2 separate regions of the Homo sapiens genome follow, and region 2 is linked to region 1. Evidence: fine-mapped expression QTL. A gene starts in region 1. The other region holds a variant in brackets. All regions are shown on one strand. Distances are between the middles of the regions. Region 1 holds the start of SDK1-AS1 (SDK1 antisense RNA 1). Region 2 overlaps SDK1-AS1 (SDK1 antisense RNA 1).

The links. PIP is the estimated chance that this variant, and not a neighbour inherited with it, causes the effect. A credible set is the group of variants that fine-mapping cannot tell apart.
Region 2: its variant is the best candidate, but not a certain one, in a credible set for the expression of SDK1-AS1 in tibial nerve (GTEx, PIP 0.53).

Annotation. Positions count from the first base shown.
Region 1 is chr7:3,350,700-3,353,624 of GRCh38, forward strand. It overlaps SDK1-AS1 (SDK1 antisense RNA 1), which reads right to left and starts at 1,386. Exons shown (of 3, transcript XR_001744897.3): 1 at 1-1,386. The region is part of intron 1 of SDK1 (sidekick cell adhesion molecule 1); the gene reads left to right.
Region 2 is chr7:3,257,525-3,260,449 of GRCh38, forward strand. The region is part of intron 2 of SDK1-AS1 (SDK1 antisense RNA 1); the gene reads right to left. Among named protein-coding and RNA genes, the nearest start is that of SDK1, 42 kb to the right of the region's middle. The variant A/G (reference allele first, on the strand shown) is at 1,376.

The DNA.
Region 1 (2,925 bases):
TCATCTTTTCCTTCTACAGTCACCAATGTCATATTTACTGTGTTAAGATGCTAGGCTTTGTACTGGCTTGTTTACTTCTCACGATTTATCTTGCAGTATGATAGTTTGTGTGACACTGAAAAAAATTAGTAGGACTGTTAAAATAGTTTTTTCCCCCCATTAAAAGTAGAATGACACCGTTTTGCTTCTGAAGAATTTGGCTTTAACTGGTTTATATTTTGAGCTGGGTATTAAAGGAGAATTATGGTAGGGTAAACACAATTAGTGACATCTGGTTGCCCCAAGAATCAATAATATCTGATACTACATACATAAATAGATATCTATGTTGTGATAATATATCTTAGTTTCACTGGGTAAAACTAGAAGAATAAAAAATTTGAAAACAGCTTGGTTACTGACTAAGCTGCAGCAGTTCTGAGAGCCTACTGTTGTCATTTTTAATGGGCAGCCTTGTACTTCCATAGATTGGTTAATCTTAAAGGCCAGATGGTAGTTGTATTGTAATTTCATAAAGATTTTATGTCCTATGTTTTGCTTTCAACTAGAAGCATGAGAATTTAGGAAAGTTATATTGAGACATATAAATAATAAAAATTGGTGAATCATTTTACCTAACAATTTATTGATATTACTCAACACAAGGAGAAAAATTAGAAAATGGACCTTAACACCACTGTCTACTATGAAGACAGTATAGAGGAGGCAGGAAAAACAGAAAGCACACAATAACATGATAGCTATAAATTCAAGTGTCAGTAATTACAATAAATGTAAATAGACTAGAGGATTCTGCTAAAAGACACGTCAGATTGGATTAAAAACATCTGAGATACTAGGTTTACAAGAAGCATATCTAAAAACAAAGATACAGAAGGCAAAATAATGGAAAATTTTATTTCAGGCTCACTTTAAGCAAAATAAAGCTGGTATAACATGTTGATATCAGACAACATAGAAATCAAGGCAAAAGGCATTAGAGATGAAGAGGATCACTGCACAGTGGTAAAAGGTTCAGTTCAGATATAGGTACATATTATATAAAGCAAAAATATACAGAAACAAGAAAAATAGCTGAATGCACAATCCTAGTGGGAAGTTAACATACCTTTCTGAATAGTACAACTTGCAGACAGAAATCTTAGGATATGGAAGACTTAAAGAACATGATCAATGAACAAATCTGACCTCATGGACATTCATAGAATGTTACAGTTCCTGTATAATCCATTCTTTTCAAGCACATGGAGCATCTGACATTGATTACATATAGGAATATAAAGCAAGTATTGATAAATTTCAAATGATTGAAATCATGTAGAGTATTTTTCTTACGGAATTATAGAAGGAATCAACCAAAAGATAACAGGAAAATCCTTGTATGTCAATAAATTAAGAAGTATATTTCTTATAATGTATAATATATAATTTTATAAATATATAAATATATATTTATAAAAGTTTCATTTAAAAAGTTTTACAAAATGGAAAAATCTGTCACTTAAATACAAAATCACTGTACTTCTGACCCTACTAAATGTAAAAATTGTCAGGATTTGGGAGGTTTTTTTTTTGATGTCCAAATACTTGATACACGTTCCAGAGATCCCCAATATTTTTGTGAATTCTTCTTAGGAGGCTAGTGATCATGTATGTGGGATTAGGAAAGTAATTGTTTGAGCTAAATGGGGGAAGAGATCATTCCTGCTGGTAGCAGGGAGGGTGTGCCACGACGAGAGATCTGTGGATTTACTGAAAACACGAGATTTACATCCAGAGCTTAGTTCACAGGCTGTGGCTCCTGTTTTTATTCATTTAGAGGCTGATAGACCAGCTGTGCCTGTAGTTACGTGTTCTTTGGCCAGACACCTAAGGAAATTTGAGGCTCAGACAAGCTGAAGTAGATATTTCTGTTTCCATGTTGAATAACAGAGCCACTCATGGGCTGTCACAGATACACTGTTTGGGGTTTTACCATTCCTTCCCATTTCCATTCCTGAAGGAAAAAGAGAAGAGATTTTTCTTTTTTTTTCAGATTATTACTGTGTTGGTGACCTAGGGAAACCCTTTTTTTTTCTCTTCTCTTTTCACAAAGTTCTGAGGAGCATGAAAAAATTGAGGTATTCACAGTGTCTGGGGAGGAAATGAGTTCTGTCCTGTATTTTCCGAAGAGTGGGAATCTAAATCGGAACAGGCACCAGGTTGAAGAAATAATTTGTCACATCATGGATGCAGGAACAAGCTCTACATGGGAATACTTTGTTGTAGTTAGGGTCTGTCTTGAGGGAAAACAAGACATAAAGGGTATGTGAAATGTTTTCTGGTGATCATATCCCACCGTGTCATTAGTTCTTTTAAAGTACTTTTTCTATATTATCCCAATTTAGCTTTTTTTGCACCCTGCAGCAATTCTATTTCTATTTTGTTTCCTGTTATCATTGTTCCCTTTTCTGAGTAGAGGATAGATAGGTAAGTGGTGTAAGTAATGGCATGGAAAGATCCAAGAACCATTAAGTAGATTATATCCCTTTTTACTATCCTTTTCTTAAAGTGCTTGACTTAATTCTGAATAGCCACTTACAAACTTTGATGAGTATCTTTCATCTTGGGGGTTATTTTGAAAATTGATGGCATTTGGAATAAAAGTTGCTATAACCTTAGTGTACGTTTGGGTTTATAAAATATACTGAACATAGGAACTCACATGACTCCCAATTTTTGAAGTAACCATAATTTCTAAAAAAAATTCAAATGAGCTGAGTTACATTTATACCACTCCTGGGAATTATTAGAATAGCATATGTTCTCTGTTTATGCTCTTTGTAAAATTGGAAAAGTAATGTGTAGCTCTTTTTAGTAGTGCCCTGTGTGTAGTTTCTGTAACAGTTCTGTAACTGTAACTTACCATTCCAGTCTATTTCTGAA
Region 2 (2,925 bases), 93 kb before region 1:
AGCTGCTAGTGATGGAAGTGTATCTCTAGAAAGGTTTATTCTCTCAAGTTAAAAAAAAAAGTTGAGGCCTGGTGCAGTGGCTCACGCCTGTAATCCCACCCCTTTGGGAGCCCAAGGCAGGTGGATTGAGATCAGGAGTTCGAGACCAGCCTGGCCAACATGGTGAAACCCCATCTCTACTAAAAATACAAAAATTAGCTGGGTGTGTTGGTGGGTGCCTGTAATCCCAGCTACTCAGGAGGCTGAGGCAGGGAATTGCTTGAACCCAGCAGGTGGAGGTTGCAGTGAGCCAAGATCACACCACTGCACTCCAGCCTGGGCAACAAAGTGAGACTCCGTCTCAAAAAAATAAATAAAATCAATCAATCAATCAATCAATCAATCAATCCAAGGCTGGGATGAAGGCTCCACAAAGTCACCAGGGACCTGGTTTCCTTCTGTCTTCCTGCTCTGTCGTACTGAGGAGGGAGGCTTCATCCTCAGCATCACTGCATGGTCTAATGTGGCTGCTGGAGCTCCAGCTATCAAATCCACATTCCAATCAACAGAAGAGGGCGAGGGAGGGAGGAAGAGCAAAAGCGAATGCCCCAGTCTGTCCCTCTTTGGAGAAGCGCTCTCATATATCCTCCCCTGAAAGTTCTGTTTATATTGTGGTGACCAGAATATATGTGTAGCCACACCTGGAAGCAAAAGAGGTAAAGAAATGTAGGCTTTTAGCTGGGCACATTGTTGCTTTGCGTATCTGTTACTAAAGGAGGGAAAAAGTATTTGGGAAGCAACCAGTAGTCTTTGTCACTCAACTTAAATATCTTTAGGAGAATGGATAAATAAATTACAGTGTATTTGTGCGATGGAGCACTATATAGTAGTTAAAATGAAGGAAATAGAGCTACGTGAATCCACATGGATAATTCTCAGAACAAAATCTCTTGCCCGAAAAAGCGAGTTGCTGAGTTCCAACTCTACGATGCCATTCATATAAAGTTTAAAAGCCTGCAAAACAACACAATGTATCTTTGATGGCTACATAAAATATATATGTTGGGAAGGTATAAAAACATAAATGAAAATGAAAAATACTAAACGCAAGATGATGGTTACCTCTGGAGAGGGAGAGCAAACAGTGTGATCAGAAACAGAGACATCCAGGCTTTCGATTACTACCTGTGATGTTGTATTTCTTTAAAAGACAAGAAAAAATTTGGAGGAAACAGCAAAATGTTAAGGCTTGTAAAAGTCGAATTGTGAGTACGCAGCATTTAACCCACCATTCCCTATATGTTTCTGTATGTTCCACATTTGTCATTGTATATGAGCTAGATAAAGAAGGAGATCAAGATCATCTAGAGGCATAACTTAATGAGATGTAACCCAC[A/G]TATGGCGAATTCCCACCTCTCAAGGATACAGCATGATGAATCTTTACAGAGTGAATTCCTCCAGAGAAGGGTATAGAATCTAGCATCCCAGAAATTTCCTCTCAGTGGCAGCCCCAGCAAAGAAAAAACACTATTGTGATATCTACCACCATTGATTGTATGGTTTTTTTGTTTTGTTTTGAGACAGTCTTGCTCTGTCTTGCCCAGGCTGCAGTGCAGTGGTGCAATCACAGCTCACTGCAGCTTTGAACTCCTGGGCTCAAGTGACCCTCCGGCCTCAGCCTCCCAGGTAGCTGGGTCTACAGGCGTGTGCCGTGACACCTAGCTAATCTCTTTTATTTTTTTGCAGAGATGGGGTCTCACTATTGTGAAACCCAAAAGTCTGAGACAGGTCTCAGTCCATTTAGGAAGTTTGTTTTGCCAAAGTTAAGGATGCGAGCCCATGACACGGCCTCAGGAGGTCCTGGTAACATGTGCCCAAGGTGGTCAGACCACAGCTTGGTTTTATACATTTTAGGGAGATGTGAGACATCAATCAACAAATGTAGGATGAACATTGGTTCAGTCCAGAAAAGGCCAGATGACTCAAAGTAGGGAGGGGGCTTCCAGGTACAATTGGTTGTATTCTACTGAGTTTCAGATGAGCCTCTCCAAAGGAGGCATTCAGATACGCATTCATCTCAGTGAACAGAGGAATGACATTGAGTCGAATGGGAGGCAGGTTTGCCCTAAGCAGTTCCCAGCTTGACTTTTTCCTTTAGCTTAGTGATTTGGGGGCCCCAAGATTTATTTTCCTTTCACGTTGTGTTTCCCAGACTTGTCTGGATCTCCTGACCTTAAACCTCCCTCCCTTCTTAACCTCCTAAAGTGCTGGGATTACAGGCATGAGCCAGCATGCATGGCCTGCGTTTTGTCTTTTGCAAGAAGGAATTGTCAGACGTGTGTGAATGAAAGCAACTCCATCTTAAATAGGAGCTGGGTAAAATGAGGCTGAGACCAACTGGGCTGCATTCCTAGATGGTTAAGGCATTCTAAGTCACAGGATGAGATAGGAGGTCAGCACAAAATATGGGCCATAAATACCTTGCTGATAAAGCAGCTTGCAGTGACGGAGCCGGCCAAAACCCACCAAAACCAAAGTGGCCACGAGAGTGACCTCTGGCCGTCCTCACTGCTACACTCCCACCAGCACCGGGACAGTTTACAAATGCCATGGCAACGTCAGGATGCTGCCCTGTATGGTCTAAAAGGGGGAGGCATGAATAATCCACCCCTTGTTTAGAATATCATCCAGAAATAACCATAAAAATGGGCAACCAGCAGCCCTCGGGGCTGCTCCGTCTATGGAGCAGCCGTTCTTTATTCCTTTACTTTCTTAATAAACTTGCTTTCACTTTGCACTACGGACTAGCCCTGAATTCTTTCTTGCGCGAGATCCGAGAACCCTCTCTTGGGGTCTGGATCTGGACCCCTTTCCTGTAACATATTTACGGCGATCACAAAGGGATTAAAGTGCAGAAACCCTACAGAATCACGCCAAATCATACGG